Regions from separate parts of the Homo sapiens genome. Here region 2 is linked to region 1. Evidence: fine-mapped expression QTL. Tissue or cell type: whole blood. Region 1 holds a variant in brackets; the other region holds the start of a gene. All regions are shown on one strand. Distances are between the middles of the regions.

What was found. PIP is the estimated chance that this variant, and not a neighbour inherited with it, causes the effect.
Region 2: VCAN starts here. The variant in region 1 is fine-mapped to the expression of VCAN in whole blood (INTERVAL, PIP above 0.99).

What each region holds. Positions count from the first base shown.
Region 1 is chr5:83,318,134-83,326,408 of GRCh38, forward strand. All of the region lies in intron 7 of XRCC4 (X-ray repair cross complementing 4), which reads left to right. Among named protein-coding and RNA genes, the nearest start is that of VCAN, 150 kb to the right of the region's middle. The variant CA/C (reference allele first, on the strand shown) is at 3,217.
Region 2 is chr5:83,468,435-83,476,434 of GRCh38, forward strand. It overlaps VCAN (versican), which reads left to right and starts at 3,310. Exons shown (of 15, transcript NM_004385.5): 1 at 3,310-3,589. RefSeq lists enhancers at 3,739-4,611, 7,163-7,685, 7,686-8,000 and silencers at 6,044-6,133, 6,164-6,383.

The sequences.
Region 1 (8,275 bases):
GCCTTTGACAAAATTCAACAACGCTTCATGCTAAAAACTCTCAATGAATTAGGTGTTGATGGGACGTATTTCAAAATAATAAGAGCTATCTATGACAAACCCACAGCCAATATCATACTGGATGGGCAAAAACTGGAAGCATTCCCTTTGAAAACTGGCACAAGACAGGGATGCCCTCTCTCACCACTCCTATTCAACATAGTGTTGGAAGTTCTGGCCAGGGCAATAAGGCAGGAGAAGGAAATAAAGGGTATTCAATTAGGAAAAGAGGAAGTCAAATTGTCCCTGTTTGCAGACGACATGATTGTTTATCTAGAAAACCCCATCGTCTCAGCCCAAAATCTCCTTAAGCTGATAAGCAACTTCAGCAAAGTCTCAGGATACAAAATCAATGTACAAAAATCACAAGCATTCTTATACACCAACAACAGACAAACAGAGAGCCAAATCATGAGTAAACTCCCATTCACAATTGCTTCAAAGAGAATAAAATACCTAGGAATCCAACTTACAAGGGATGTGAAGGACCTCTTCAAGGAGAACTACAAACCACTGCTCAAGGAAATAAAAGAGGACACAAACAAATGGAAGAACATTCCATGCTCATGGGTAGGAAGAATCAATATCGTGAAAATGGCCATACTGCCCAAGGTAATTTACAGATTCAATGCCATCCCCATCAAGCTACCAATGACTTTCTTCACAGAATTGGAAAAAACTACTTTAAAGTTCATATGGAACCAAAAAAGAGCCCGCATCGCCAAGTCAATCCTAAGCCAAAAGAACAAAGCTGGAGGCATCACACTACCTGACTTCAAACTATACTACAAGGCTACAGTAACCAAAACAGCATGGTACTGGTACCAAAACAGAGATATAGATCAATGGAACAGAACAGAACCCTCAGAAATAATGCCGCATATCTACAACTATCTGATCTTTGACAAACCTGAGAAAAACAGGCAATGGGGAAAGGATTCCCTATTTAATAAATGGTGCTGGGAAAACTGGCTAGCCATATGTAGAAAGCTGAAACTGGATCCCTTCCTTACACCTTATACAAAAATCAATTCAAGATGGATTAAAGATTTAAACGTTAGACCTAAAACCATAAAAACCCTAGAAGAAAACCTAGGCATTACCATTCAGGACATAGGCGTGGGCAAGGACTTCATGTCCAAAACACCAAAAGCAATGGCAACAAAAGCCAAAATTGACAAATGGGATCTAATTAAACTAAAGAGCTTCTGCACAGCAAAAGAAACTACCATCAGAGTGAACAGGCAACCTACAACATGGGAGAAAATTTTCGCAACCTACTCATCTGACAAAGGGCTAATATCCAGAATCTACAATGAACTCAAACAAATTTACAAGAAAAAAACAAACAACCCCATCAAAAAGTGGGCGAAGGACATGAACAGACACTTCTCAAAAGAAGACATTTATGCAGCCAAAAAACACATGAAAAAATGCTCATCATCACTGGCCATCAGAGAAATGCAAATCAAAACCACTATGAGATATCATCTCACACCAGTTAGAATGGCAATCATTAAAAAGTCAGGAAACAACAGGTGCTGGAGAGGTTGTGGAGAAATAGGAACACTTTTACACTGTTGGTGGGACTGTAAACTAGTTCAACCATTGTGGAAGTCATTGTGGCGATTCCTCAGGGATCTAGAACTAGAAATACCATTTGACCCAGCCATCCCATTACTGGGTATATACCCAAATGACTATAAATCATGCTGCTATAAAGACACATGCACACGTATGTTTATTGCGGCATTATTCACAATAGCAAAGACTTGGAACCAACCCAAATGTCCAACAATGATAGTCTGGATTAAGAAAATGTGGCACATATACACCATGGAATACTATGCAGCCATAAATAATGATGAGTTCATGTCCTTTGTAGGGACATGGATGAAATTGGAAACCATCATTCTCAGTAAACTATCGCAAGAACAAAAAACCAAACACCGCATATTCTCACTCATAGGTGGGAATTGAACAATGAGATCACATGGACACAGGAAGGGGAATATCACACTCTGGGGACTGTTGTGGGGTCGGGGGAGGGGGGAGGGATAGCATTGGGAGATATACCTAATGATAGATGACACGTTAGTGGGTGCAGCGCACCAGCATGGCACATGTATACATATGTAACTAACCTGCACAATGTGCACATGTACCCTAAAACTTAAAGTATAATAAAAAATAAAAAATAAAAAAATAATAAAAAAATAAAAAAAAAAAGAAATAAAAACCACTCCTGGCGAAGATTCTATGAACATTGTTAAAATTACAAAAAGGGATTTATAATATCCATAAACTTAGTTCATAAAGCAGAGGTGGGGTTTGAGAATATTGACTCCAATTTTGAAAGAAGTTCTACTGAGGAAAAAATGCTGTCAAATAGCATCCCCATGCTATAGAGAAATATTTTGTGAAGGGGTCAATCAGTGTCATGAACTTCATTGTCTTATTTTAAGAAATTGCACAGCCACTTAATACCTTTGGCAACTACCACCCTGATCAGTCAGCAGCCATCAATATTGAGGCAAGACCCTGCACCAGCAAAAAAGGTTACAACTTGCTAAAGGCCCAGATGATTATTAGCATTTTTTAGCAATAAACATTTTGAAATTAAGTTATGTACTTCTTTTTTTTTTTTTTTTTTTTTTGAGACAGAGTCTCGCTCTGTCACCCAGGCTGTAATGCAGTGGCATGATCTCAGCTCACTGCAACCTCTGCCTCCCATGTTCAAGCAATTCTTCTGCCTCAGCCTCCCAAGTAGCTGGAACTAAGGTGCCCGCCAACATGCCTGGCTAATTTTTGTAGTTTTAGTAGAGATGGGGTTTCACCACATTGGCCAGGCTGGTCTGGAACTCCTGACCCTGTGATCTGCCCGCCTCGGCCTCCCAAAGTGCTGGGATTACAGGCATTAGCAAGTTATGTACATTTCTTTAGACATAATGCTGTTGCACACTTAATAGGCTACAGTGTCATGTAAACATAACTTTTTCTGCACAGGGAAAGCAAAACATTTATGTGACTCACTTTATTGAGATTTTGACTTTATTGTTTTGGCATGGAACCAAACTGGCAATGTATGCAAAGTGTGTCTGTATTCACTAAATAATAGTTTTGAACTTTATGATTGCAGTAAGTTTATATCAGTTTCACTTCAATTTTTTAGGGTTG[CA/C]TAATTTGCCACAATTTTCATCAGATATTTTGGAATGATGTAGCAGAATACATCAAGAAAATCTCCAGTTCTTTTGACAATTTTTGTTAGAGCTTTTTGATTCTTACCCTCATGGAAATACTTGTGTATAAATATAGAAAATCTCAGATTAAATTATTTTCTTGGTAGCCTTGCCTGTTCCTATTAAGCCACAGAAAATATTAATAAGGTGAATATGTTAACTTTATTTTTCAAATTATTGTTAATCTCAGCATACTATGAAGAACATGAATGTACTGTACACACAAACAACTTGATGTCTCACTAAATGAAAGACACATGTGCATTAGATCCATCTACCTTTCAGGCACAGTCATGGGGTTTTTAACTCCACAACATTAACTGGAATTGTGGAATACAGATAAGATCATAATTGCAAAGATGTGATATTCCCTGAAGAATTTTTTATCTATGATCAAAATGCAAAAAATTTAATGTGTTATGGTAATGTTCCTTATTATCCATGATTAAGTCACACCAAAATGGCACAAAGACCAGGAAACCAGCCAAGCATTCACTGGAGGCATTACTCAGTGTCTGAGAGATTCAGTTGATTTATATGAATTAAGGAATATTTTACTATCTAGTATGTATCATTTAAAATAAAACAAACCTTCTAAAGATGATAATTGTAAACATTTGAATTGTGTTTTTAATTGGAAAAGTAATGAGCTTGTACTGTTAAGCTGTTTCTTATTTTATGTTCTATGCTTTCACAATTTACATTTACTTACTTGTAAATTGTGTTATCTGAAGAATTTTTTCCATATCTGATGTCTGCATAACTCCGGAATATTGTTAGACATTTAATAGGAACCTAATTATAAAACAAATTTATTTACTATGTATGCCATTAAAAACATTACAATTAGCCTGTTTAAGCCTCAATGTATCTCAGCGCTGAACTCTATCAAATGCTATGAACTCACAATTTTCCATGACTTTATATGCAATTAAAGACCTCAATGAAATTATTTATGTTTTTATCCCCCAATTATATAGTACCTACTCTGTGCCAGGCAATATGCTGTGGACTGAAGGTACCAACATGAATAAGATAACTTTCCCTCACTGGGTGTGATAGGCTGAATAACCACTCCCTCCATCTCCCCCAACCGCCGCATGCGCATGTCCTAATTTGTGGAACATGCGAATGTTATCATATGGCAAAGACTTTGTGGGTGTGATCAAGTTAATGATTTTGATTATCCTAGGATTATCCTGGATTACCAAAGTAAGCCCAAATACAATTACATAGATCTTTATAAGAGGGAGGCATAGAGAGATTTGGCACAGACAGAGAAGAAGGCAAAGTGACATTGGAGGCAGAGATTGGAGAGATGTGGCTCCCAGCCAAGGAATGCTACAACCACAAAAAGCTGGAAGAGGAAGGAACAGATTCTCACCTAATGGCCTTGGAGGCAATGCAGCCCTGATGATACCTTGATTTTATTCTGGTGTTACTGATTTCAGACTTCTGGACTCCAGAACTATAAGAGAATAAATGTGTGTTGTTTTAAACAACCAAGTTTGGGTAATTTGTCACAGCAGTCATAGGAAATAAATGCACTGAGGAACTCAAAGTTTAATGAAAGAGACAAACACAAAAAATAATTGTTATAGTACAGCAAGAGCCCTATTCGAAGTATGTGGGAGCGGATGGGGAGCATGGGTGGAGTATTGACTCTGATGGATCTAGTTCTTTAAAGCTACTTAGAAGATCTGAACTGAAGCTTGAAATAAAATAGTGTTTTCCAAGCAGGGAAGGGAGTACAAAAATGCAGAAACCAAAAAAATATGGTGAGTTTTATAATGCAAAATGGTATTTTGAAATGCACAGTTTAAATCAGGAAATAATTAGCCCTAAAATAATTTTCATTGATTTTAAATTTTTGATTACTCATATTTATCAAAAAAAAGTATATGGCTGTAAAGTATCCTTGGAAAATGTAATAGTAAATATACTACAAATAAGAAAATGAATATTACAGCATTACAAATGATTTTCTATCATTGCTTGTTGCTGAGGATTTTAGAGAGGTTGTTACACAGAAATGTTAATTAAACCATATCAACAGTACCATACTTTAATCAGTTGGAGAGAAATTATTTATTCTAGTTATAAAAATAATTACCAATTCCTCAAATTATAATAAAAATAAAGCAACAGTTTTAATAAAAATATTTCTCTTCTCTTCATTTTTTTTTTGATTAATACAAATTTTTGCTTAGATGTTTTTGGCCAAGTGCAAAATAAATAGAGGTCATTTTTCTTGTGTTCTCTTGTGAGAGTTGAACAGTAAAAGTAGTAAGGATGTATGAACAAAAATATCTGATACTGTGTTTGGAACTAGAAATTTTGCAGACTAGACAGAACTTGGGTGAGTTTTGAAATATGTTTTCAAGGTTAATTTCACTATTTGAGGAAGAGAGAATGGTAAAGAAAAGATGTTATAAGCCAAATGAAGATTTACTGTGGTATAGATCAGGTATCAGTGATTTAGCAATGAAACCAAAGGAAATGATAAATTATAATATGAAGGACAGTTTGATTATCCAGAGATGATAGGATAAGTTTATATCAGTTTCACTTCAGTTTTTTAGAGTTGCATAATTTGCCACAGTTTTCATCAGATATTTTGGAATGATGTAGCAGAATACATCAAGAAAATCTCCAGTTCTTTTGACAATTTTTGTTAGAGCTTTTTGATTCTTACCCCCATGGAAATACTTGTGTATAAATATAGAAAATCTCAGATTAAATTATTTTCTTGGTAGCCTTGCCTGTTCCTATTAAGCCGCAGAAAATATTAATAAGGTGAATATGTTAACTTTTTTATTTTTCAAATTATTGTTAATCTCAGCATACTATAAAGAACATGAATGTACTGTACACACAAACAACTTGATGTCTCACTAAATGAAAGACACATGTGCATTAGATCCATCTACCTTTCAGGCACAGTCATGGGGTTTTTAACTCCACAACATTAACTGGAATTGTGGAATTCCTGTTTGTTTTTATCAGTGGTCTAAGATAACTCTTCTATTGATCAAACATTAAAAATATTTTATTCATGTAAATATCTTTGTCAATATCCTTATCCTTGTCAATAGATGTAAGAGGAAAAGTAGAAAGTGTTGATCAATATTTTGGGATTTCTTTTTTTAAGTACATAAGATGCCATTGGCTTTTGCCATTTCTGTAGCTTTTTAGTGTAGCTAAAAGAAGGAAAATATAGTTTTTAGTATTCTAGGAAGACAGACACATACTTGAATTCCATACATGTTCATGCCAGTGGGGTATTCCTATGGCAGCCTTTGTTTCCTCCCAATACATTCTAATGATTAGCCCTAAGACTCTGCTAAGATTGTGAAGTATTTGACATTAGGTAGTACCTTAGGGAGAGTAAAGATTTTGATTGACTCAAGATAATATGCATAGAATCACCATGCAAATTCAAGAACAAAGCCACTTTATAAAAGCAAACTAAAAGTAATTTGAAAATAGACTTACTGGGAACTCAGAAGATTTACCTCAGTCTCAGGTGATCATGTAGAATGGACGGCCTCCCCACCTTTGGCTACTTTGGGAACCCTTCAAGTGATTTTTTTAAAGTTCCTTCCTAGAACAATGTAGCACAATCCCATCTTCTTTGGCAGGTAGGTGTCTCCTATTTTATTCCCTAGTATGAGCTTTTGCTAGTCAACATTTCCCTTTTGCAATGAGGCTGGAAATGTTTCTGCCTCCTAATAAAAGCTATCACATATTTGAGCATGCTGTTTTTTAGAGTCCATGACCTTATCTGCTTTCAGCCAGATTCTCTTACTACTTATAGGCAATTTTCTTCCAAATTTCATTTTATTTTGTTATTATTCATAATGGAATCTGTCCTTAATTTTTTTCTTTTTTCCTATAAGTTTTATTTTAAGTTCAGGGGTACATGTGCAGGACATGCAGGTTTGATACATAGGTAAATGTGTGCCATGGTGGTTTGCTGCACAGATCATCCCATCACCCAGGTATTAAGCCCAGCATCCATTAGTTATTCTTCCTGATGCTCTCCCTCCCCCAACACCCCTCAACAGGCCCCATTGTGTGTGTTGTTCTCCCATTGTGTCCATGCGTTCTCATCATTCAGCTCTCACTTATAAGTGATAACATGTTATGTTTGGTTTTCTGTTCCTGCATTAGTTTGCTGAGGATAATGGCTTCCAACTCTGTCCATGCACCTGCAAAGGACATGATCTCATTCTTTTTTGCGACTGCATAGTATTCCATGGTGTATATGTACATATTTTCTTTTTCCAGTCTATCATTGATGAGCATTTAGGTTGATTCCATGTCTTTGCTATTGTGAATAGTGCTGCAATGAACATATGCATGCATGTATCTTTATAATAGAATTATTCTATTTCTTTAGATATATATACAGTAATGGGATTGCTGGGTCCGATGGTATTTCCGGTTCTAGGTCTTTAAGGAGTCACCACACTGTTTTCCACAGTGGTTGAGCGAATTTACACTCCCACTAACAGTGTAAAAGCATTCCTTTTTCTTTGCATCCTCACCAGCATCTGTTGTTTTTTGACTTTTTAATAGCCATTCTGACTAGCATGAGATGGTATCTCATATGTTAGTTGGCTGCACTTATGTCTTCTTTTGAGAAGTATCTGCTCATGTCCTTTGCCCAGTTTTTAATGGGCTTGTTTGTTTCTTCCCTGTAAATGTGTTTAAGTTCCTTGTAGACTCTGGATATTAGACCTTTGTCAAATGGATAGATAGCAAAAATTTTCACCCATTCTGTAGGTTTTCTGCTAACTCCAACGATAGTTTCTTTTGCTGTGCAAAAGCTCTTTAGTTTAAGTAGACCCCGTTTGTCAATTTTTGCTTTTGTTGCAATTGCTTTTGGAGTCTTTGTCATGAAATCTTTGTCTGTTGCTATGTCCTGAATTGTATTGCCTACATTTTCTTCTAGGATTTTTATAGTTTTTGGGTTTTACATTTAAGTGCCTAGT
Region 2 (8,000 bases), 150 kb after region 1:
CTTAGTTGTGCCTAGGACCAGTCAGATCAAGGAGTTGAAACTAAGCTCTTTCTGAATTTGAATGGGACTGGAATCTTGTCATCCCTAGAGCAGCAATAGATGATGCCATGTCTAAGAACACTTCACCTGATCAATAAAAAAGGAGAAGTCTGAAATGTAATCCTAAAGAACCTCAGAAGGAGGTTTAGATGAAGATAATAAAATTCCCTGGAGACACATCTGCCATCTACACCTTTCCTCTCCAAGTCATTGGCTTGCTGCCCCTGAGCTCAGCCAAATTCCCAAAGACAAGATCAAAGCAAGGAAGCAAGGCACATAGCTTCTGGCTTATGGTTTCTTTTAGACACAAGCATTGTGAATGAAGATCTTGCTTTATTTATACCTGGGATCTTGGAGTTTTCACAAAGAATATCCCCAGTACAAGGATGTGATTTAAAGGGGGACTCACAGAATAATATTTTAATTACTGTTTGATTCATACTTGAGTGTAATGGACAAATAAATACAATTTTAGTTATAAAACCTGAAAAATATATATTTTCCCATTCAAAAACTTCTGATAGTTTTGTCAGGCATTGGAGAATCAGAAATAAATGCTCTCTCATTTTCTTTCTCTTGATGAAGGAAAGTCATTAAAAACAGTTACATAGAAATAATAATACAACTGTAGACTCTATTCTAAATATAGCTGGTATGTTTTCCTTTTTCTTTTTTATCCATTCTCCATTTTAGACAGCTAGAGGGGAAAGTCTGCCCTAGAGATAGAAAGAAGATATCCATGGGGTATAATTTCATTTTAGTTATCTGATAGCCTGAAGAAGTATTTAATTTTCTGAATAATAATGTTACAAGTCAAAGAAGAGAAAAGACAGGCAGTTTAAAGCTTTTCAACATTGTGCATATTCTAATTCCTTAAGTCAGCCCTGAGAAAGTGCCTTTGTCCTGTAGAAGTATTTGGTCAAGTGTTGTGAAGTCTATTGGCATTAAAAGAAACTAAAAATTTTGGAGGATTAGAGAATCAAATTTGGCAACATAAATGAAAACATCTCAGAATGTAAAAAGTATCTAACCCATCACTTTCAATCATGTTCCATTATATACAGATGGCATTATTTATAGTGAATGTTAACTATTAACATTTCCCTAAAAATGGGCATTAATCTGCTATTAGTTGCTTGTTTCTGATCTAGTTCTCCTTTGTTGAAAGGTTTTACTTAACTGTATCATAAAGGGACAAAAGGGTAAAAGATAATAAGCTTTTCAGACTGGCAGATCTGTCACTTACAAAATGGCCTTGGGCAGGTTACTTGAACTCTTTGAAACTCAACTAGATTTACTCAAATTTAAGAATGAGAATACAAATCCACATCTTGAAGTGTTTCACAGAAAGGTCTATCTTAATGTCTGGAGTATATATTTCAATGAACATTCATTTTATTTTATTTCTCTCCATTCCTGAATCAAGCAATCTTGAATCTAAAGTTGCTATGATTAGCACTGAAAAGACCACTGGACTATTAATTGTGTGACTTTGGGACAGTAACTTTCTGCACCTTAGTTTGTTTACATGTTATACATGAAGGTTGAAGTCTGATTCTGCTCTGTGACTATCATTCTAAACATCTGATGAAATCAAATTTCAGTGTTTGGAATGGTAGTACAATAAATTTACTAAGAATAAATAATTCACTGCAAAAACACATTGATTTCCAAATGATGTAACTGACAGTTATATTACTGCAGAGGGCTGATAAATAACAAAAGAAATGAAAGATGCACATGGTGAGAACTGAAATTATCCTGACAAGTCTTCTACCTGTTTATCACTTAAAATCAATGACCATGCTGAATGCCTACAAATTACAAAATATAAAAGAAATCTTATAAATGCGCATGTACAGGAGTCTAAGTTACTAAAAGTTTTAAAGCATAAGTTTAAACCAAACTAATCAAAGAAGTTGAGAGGAAAAATTGGCTTTCATCTTTAATCACTACTGTTTTGAGGTCCTATGTTTAATATAATTTTCTAAGTAGAGGCTTCAGAGAGAAGAGTTGTGAGGATACTTTCATATTTGTGTAGAAGGAAAAGTTTGCCATCCATTCTAGTATCCCTAGTGTTATACTGATGTGCACCTTGGATTTATTTTGTTCCTATTGTATAAACTCATACTTGACTTCAAAGAAAAGGAAAATCCAAAGTCCCTCTTTTCTAAGGGGACAGAAATCCTTTGTGTCAACTGTTTGACCCTTTTCTCTGTAAGGTCCTATTGGAAATCTTTTGTAACACAATGCAGGGGACTCTTCCATGTGTTGATGCTGTTTACACAGTGGGGTGGGCCTGACTGAAGAAAAAAAATCGCATATACGCATGAAAGATTATGGTCTTATTTCCGGAAAGCATGAAAGGTGATTGATACTTCCAAGAAGTCCCTGTTACTCAGGAAAATTATCAAATATTCTACTCAGAGATACTTGGAAAGACTGAAGGAAAGGAAGAACGAAGAAAGCAGAATCTAGACTTATGTGGGGAGAGATTTGTGGCAGAGGAAAAGTATTCTCTTTGAATCCGACAAGGGATTTGCCTGGGGGAATTTCCTGTCCAGCCTTTTATTACCAGGGTCTTTTGAAGCCGGGCTCCCCATTGGGCAGTTCCCTGGGAGTGCAGTGGGGAATTCTTACACTTTCCCTCTAGGTCCCCGAAGGATCTCGTTTTCTCAGTGTCTCTTTCAGGTTGGCAGGAGCCTTGAGCCTGACACTTCCCTTTGATGGGACAGGCAAGCTCTGTGGGCGCGTAAACACGCTGTAACCAAGTTCTTTGCTGATTTTACAGTTTTGTGTGCTCCCGAGAAGAAGTGATCGTACTCAATTGTCTATTGCTGGCCTGCCCCCTAAGAGCCTGGGGGCTCCTTTCCCCTAACCCAGAACTAGCTGCACGGGGGGCGGGGAAATGGGGGTGGGGAAGGAGTGGGAGGGCAGTGGTTTCCGCGAGCAGAGCGATGTTACTGAGTGAGTCCCTGAATGGGGAGCGCTGCTGTCCCCAAGCCGATTGGTACTTCTTGTCAGGAAGAAACGCCAAGAGGTGGGAGTGCCTGGGGAGGGAGGCAGGCGGTCCCTACCGCAGGCGCGGGGAGCTGCCTTTCCGCCCCTCCGCCTGCTTTCCAAGCCTGGACTCTTAGGAGTGGCTGAAGCTGCGGAGCGCTTTTGGAGCCTGTGAATGAACCCTCCTCCTCTCCCTCCTCCTTCTTCTCGCTGAGTCTCCTCCTCGGCTCTGACGGTACAGTGATATAATGATGATGGGTGTCACAACCCGCATTTGAACTTGCAGGCGAGCTGCCCCGAGCCTTTCTGGGGAAGAACTCCAGGCGTGCGGACGCAACAGCCGAGAACATTAGGTGTTGTGGACAGGAGCTGGGACCAAGATCTTCGGCCAGCCCCGCATCCTCCCGCATCTTCCAGCACCGTCCCGCACCCTCCGCATCCTTCCCCGGGCCACCACGCTTCCTATGTGACCCGCCTGGGCAACGCCGAACCCAGTCGCGCAGCGCTGCAGTGAATTTTCCCCCCAAACTGCAATAAGCCGCCTTCCAAGGTAATCACGTTTCTTTTGTTCCCCCCTTAAAAAACAAAAACAAAAAACTTATAGAAAAAAACCCGCGAGCTTAGAAAAAAGAAGCAATTGGTAGAAGGCTTTAATTAAGGCAAAGAGCTGTAAGGCGAAGTTAAGAAAATGTAGGCACTTAAAAAATGCAGGTAACTTTCATAAGGGCTTTTGGGGAGAGGCATACAGAGGGACCTTGGTGTTGAAAAAGATTCAGACAAAAGAAACCCAGGGTGGGGTGGGGGGTAAAATGACTAACGGAATTGGGGGAAGGGAGGGAATAAATTGTAAAGAAATCATAGAAAAGTGGTGGGTTCTTGAGCTGGAGAGAAGAGAGGGACCTTTGGCACTTTGATTTTTTTGTTGTTGTTGTTCTTAACACGCTCGAGGCAAAAGTTTGAATGGGGACTACCAAGACTTGCCACAGACAAGTCCCCGAAGCCGCCTTGGTGCAGGCCACCTGGTTTCCCAGCCCCTGGTGTGTGGTCAGTGCCTGGTGTTCCTGGAAAGCCACTCCCGGGCAGCTCCTGACAGTGCGACCCGGCGCCCAAGCAGCCTGGGACCTTGCGCGGACCTGACCCCTTCAGACCGCAGGCAGTCTGGGAGGAGGTCCGGCCGGGGGAGGTGCAGGATCCCCGCCGTGTCTCTTTGACGACTTGGGGACTGTCACGGTTCTCTCCCGGCGCCCCTGGGTTCTTTTGTCCTGCACGCGGTGCGAAGGGGCCAGCAGGGAAGGAGCAGAGGATGGGGGGTGGGGTTGTTGGAGCCCCGCGGAGGTCTGGGAGGCCCCTGGGCGGGAAAAGCCTGTTCTGAATCGGCAGGGATGTGCAACAATTTTTCTCACCCTGAAGAGTGAAATAGGGTCTGTCGCTCCCATCTCAACAAGCAAACCGGCACCCAGAGCGCACTGCAGACAAAGGTGGCTCGGGGACCCGAATCAGGGGCCTCTGGGTCAGTCCTCTCGCCCAGACTACAGGAGTCCTCCGTTTCCTTACATATTCCCCACCCTCTCCTAGTTCTCCGCTCTAGTTGAGCAACTTTACTGGCAGGTCTAGCGGCAGCGGCGCGCGCGTGTGCCGGGAGCCCCGGGGGACGTCCTCGGCTGGAGCGCCCCACCGTCCTGCAGAGGCGTGGGCGCTGTAGGGCGACATCCCTGGTGCGTGCAGACCTAGGGCATCCGGGTTGTTCTGGCCCGCGGTCTGTGTCACTGGGCGTGGAGCGGTCTGGGTGTTAGGCAGAGGAGAGCGGGGTAGAAAAATAGTGTCATAGCCTAAACTATTTGCTCTCCAATCCAACTGCGTCTCGGCAAGTCCTGCATGTCCCTGGGAGATGCTGCGGGAAGGGGGAGAAATCTACACGGCGCCTGGAGAGTTGTCCTGCCGCGCGCACACCCGCGGCAGAGTCTCTCTGGGTCGCGTTCCTCATCTTTGTGTCTCCCTCTGTCTCCATCTTCTCTGCCTCCCTTCCCCTCTCCCAGCCTCTGTTCTCTCTCTCTAGCTTCTGCGTCCCCTCCCCCACAGCTGACAAATGAATGGCTAGTGTGAAATCCCTGCCTTTCCCGTGCTCCAAGGCAGCAGGGAGGGAGGAGCGAGGGAGGCGGTGCGCTCCTTCGGATCTGCCCCCAGTTCAGCTCACAAGACTTGCAGAACCTAGATGTCTAGGAATTGGGAGTTTTGCGGCGGGTGTGGGCGCCCCCTGATGGAGAAGTCCCGCACAGGCGGAGAAAAACAAGCCCCCCAGACCAAGCGAGCATCTTTCACAACCTTGTGTTCAAGGATGGAAGGCCCTAGTTTTCCCTTAAGTCATTCATTTTGCACTCCACAATCTGCGGCGTACATCTAGGAGTTTGGAGGACCCTGAAAAAAGGTCTTGGTCTGTGCAAAGTGCAGAGATGCCTTCTCGCGAGTCGGCTGGAACGCACGCGGCGCCCTGGGTCCAGTTCGCCGCTTAGTGGACGAACGCACATGGCCAGGGTGGAGCCAGGTTTCGGAGGTCTAGACGCGCCACCCTGGGCGTCTTTAAGAAAGATAATACACATACCGTGCTCTCAAAACCCATGACCACTTGAACCCAACGCTAGGGCCCCGCCCCAGGATATTGCAAAAGAAGGGCTCCTAATCCAAAACTTAAACTTCCTCAACTTCAGGGCGGGCGTCGGACGGGAAAGTGGAGAGAAGGCGGGCAGTGGGAGGAAAAAAGAAAGGGAAGGAAGGGAAGTGGAAGGAAAGAGGACCGTGGAGGGGAGGAAAAGGAGAAAGGAACGGAGATGGGGCAGATGGCATTCAAACAGCCAGGAACGGACCGGAAGGGTTCGTTTCGGGGTTTGGGTCTGAATTTCGAGACTCGTTTTAGGATACTCTTTTCCCTTTCCCAGCGGCAACAAATGTGACTGCAGAGGCGTGCCGGGATGGAAGGGTGGGAAAGAACTAGACAAGCGGAGGTGGTCCAGCCCCGCCCAAAGGGGCTGGGTCTGGGGCCCGCCCCCACTCGCTCACCTCGCGCCAAGGGAGGACCCGCAACGGGCGCTCCCCGCAGCGGCTGGGTTAGCCAGCCGCCACGTGGGTTGGCGCTTCGGCTCCCAGCCGAGACGGGTGTGACTTCCTGGGCTCAGAGACTGCAGTACAGCCGCACAGGCGGCCGGCGCAGCCGAGGCCCCCACCCACCGAGGCCAATGGGGGCGGGGCGGGGAAGGCAGGGCCCAGCTTAACCGAGAGAGCCGAGTGGCCTCGCCCCCAGGATTCGGGGCCGGCTGCTTCTGGAGCTGACCCGAGTTCCATCCAGACAGCGCTGAACACTCTTATTAAAAGGCTATTTAAGTTTTATTTTATTTTATTTTATTTTTGCTTGCTTCTTGGGAGTGGTAGGAGGGGCATCGTGCTTTTGTTTTGAGGCAGGGGAGAGGTTAAAATTTACTCCAAGCAAACTTTTTGTCAGAAAAATGAGACTTTATACCGTATTCCATTTGTTGACTTTTTAAATACATTCAGGTCACTCTAAAGCCCATTCTTAGTCAATTAACAGATTAATTTCGTTCCAGACTGTCATAAAGAGTTCGCCTGGAATGGCAAATACTGCCATTCGACAAGACTAATAGAATTTCATGGGGGCAAACATGGAAGGGCTGCGAGTGTAACTGAGGTTCCTGTGCCTCAATGAGGAACCTTAGCGGGGACCTGGCGGGGACTGGAAGCTCAGCACCTATTTAGGGAGTGACTGAGCTGGAAACCTGGAGAAGCTTGGTGCAGACGAGACGGTGCTTCTTAGAGCTGCATTTTAAGTCCTCCCATTTTGCTGCATATTGGAAGAACTGGATTTTAAAGATCTTTTCCATCACCTCAGATTCTGTAGCTAACAGCCACGTCTTTTTCTTTTTGTCTGCTGAAAGCTGTGACCTAATTGTTTTAAGCACTTCTTGACAATTTCGCCAAACCCATCCTGAAAATATTCACATAAAGTCCTAAAATAGGATGTTGTGAGTGTAATATAAAAATAGGAAGGTACCAATGGAAGCAACAATTAGTGTTCTGAGATAGAAGCGGTTCCCAGTTTGTAACTTGGAAATGTTAAGAGCAGTACATCAGGGAGAAGGTCTCCAAGAGTCTGACTTCTTGTTCTGAGCTCTGAGTAAAGAAAGAAATATGTTAGAATTGTATTGTCTGCCCGCAGTAATATTGTAAAGGGTTCCAATGGATTCCAATGTGATTGAGCAATTACTTCCTCCAGCACCAAGTCCACAGTCCTTAATCTTCTTGTGAGAAGATTAGGTAGGAAGCGGGATGAGATTCAAGACAATCATTTAGGATTTATGTCAGAATTCAAAGTTTTGATTCTTTTGGTAGATAAAAACAGAGTTGGTTTTAAATTGTATTTCCTGCTTTCAAAAAAACGAGGTTTGAAAGGAATCCCCCTAGATTTACATAGGTTTACAGATGTAAGTTTCTTCTTTTTCCCTGTGTTTGCAAACTGGAGGGAGATGCCTTTGATATTCCAGAATACCTGTATCTATACACTTGTAAATTCTGCTAGGAAAGGACCTAAACAGCTAAACCAAAGGTGACCATGATTAATGTTAAAGATACTACCCATTGTTCTCTCTTTTGTTGTATTATTAGGCTTAAATACTTTGGAGTTAATGATTGGTCACTTAATTGAGTAACAGAGCCTTTGAGAGCGCAAAGATCAACTAACTCTGTCTCCCAAAGTCTGGCAACTAAGCCCTCCTTTCCTGGTGAGATTTAAACATTTTTGTTGACGTCATTCATGGACAAACATCGGTAAACACTGTATTTAAAATGGGATATTGCCCTGTGATGGAGCAGAACTTCTCAAGACACATGGTTCTTTTGAAAGAAAGAATTAATGACTGTAGTAAGGTATTTTTTCACCACCCACGTAGAGAAAC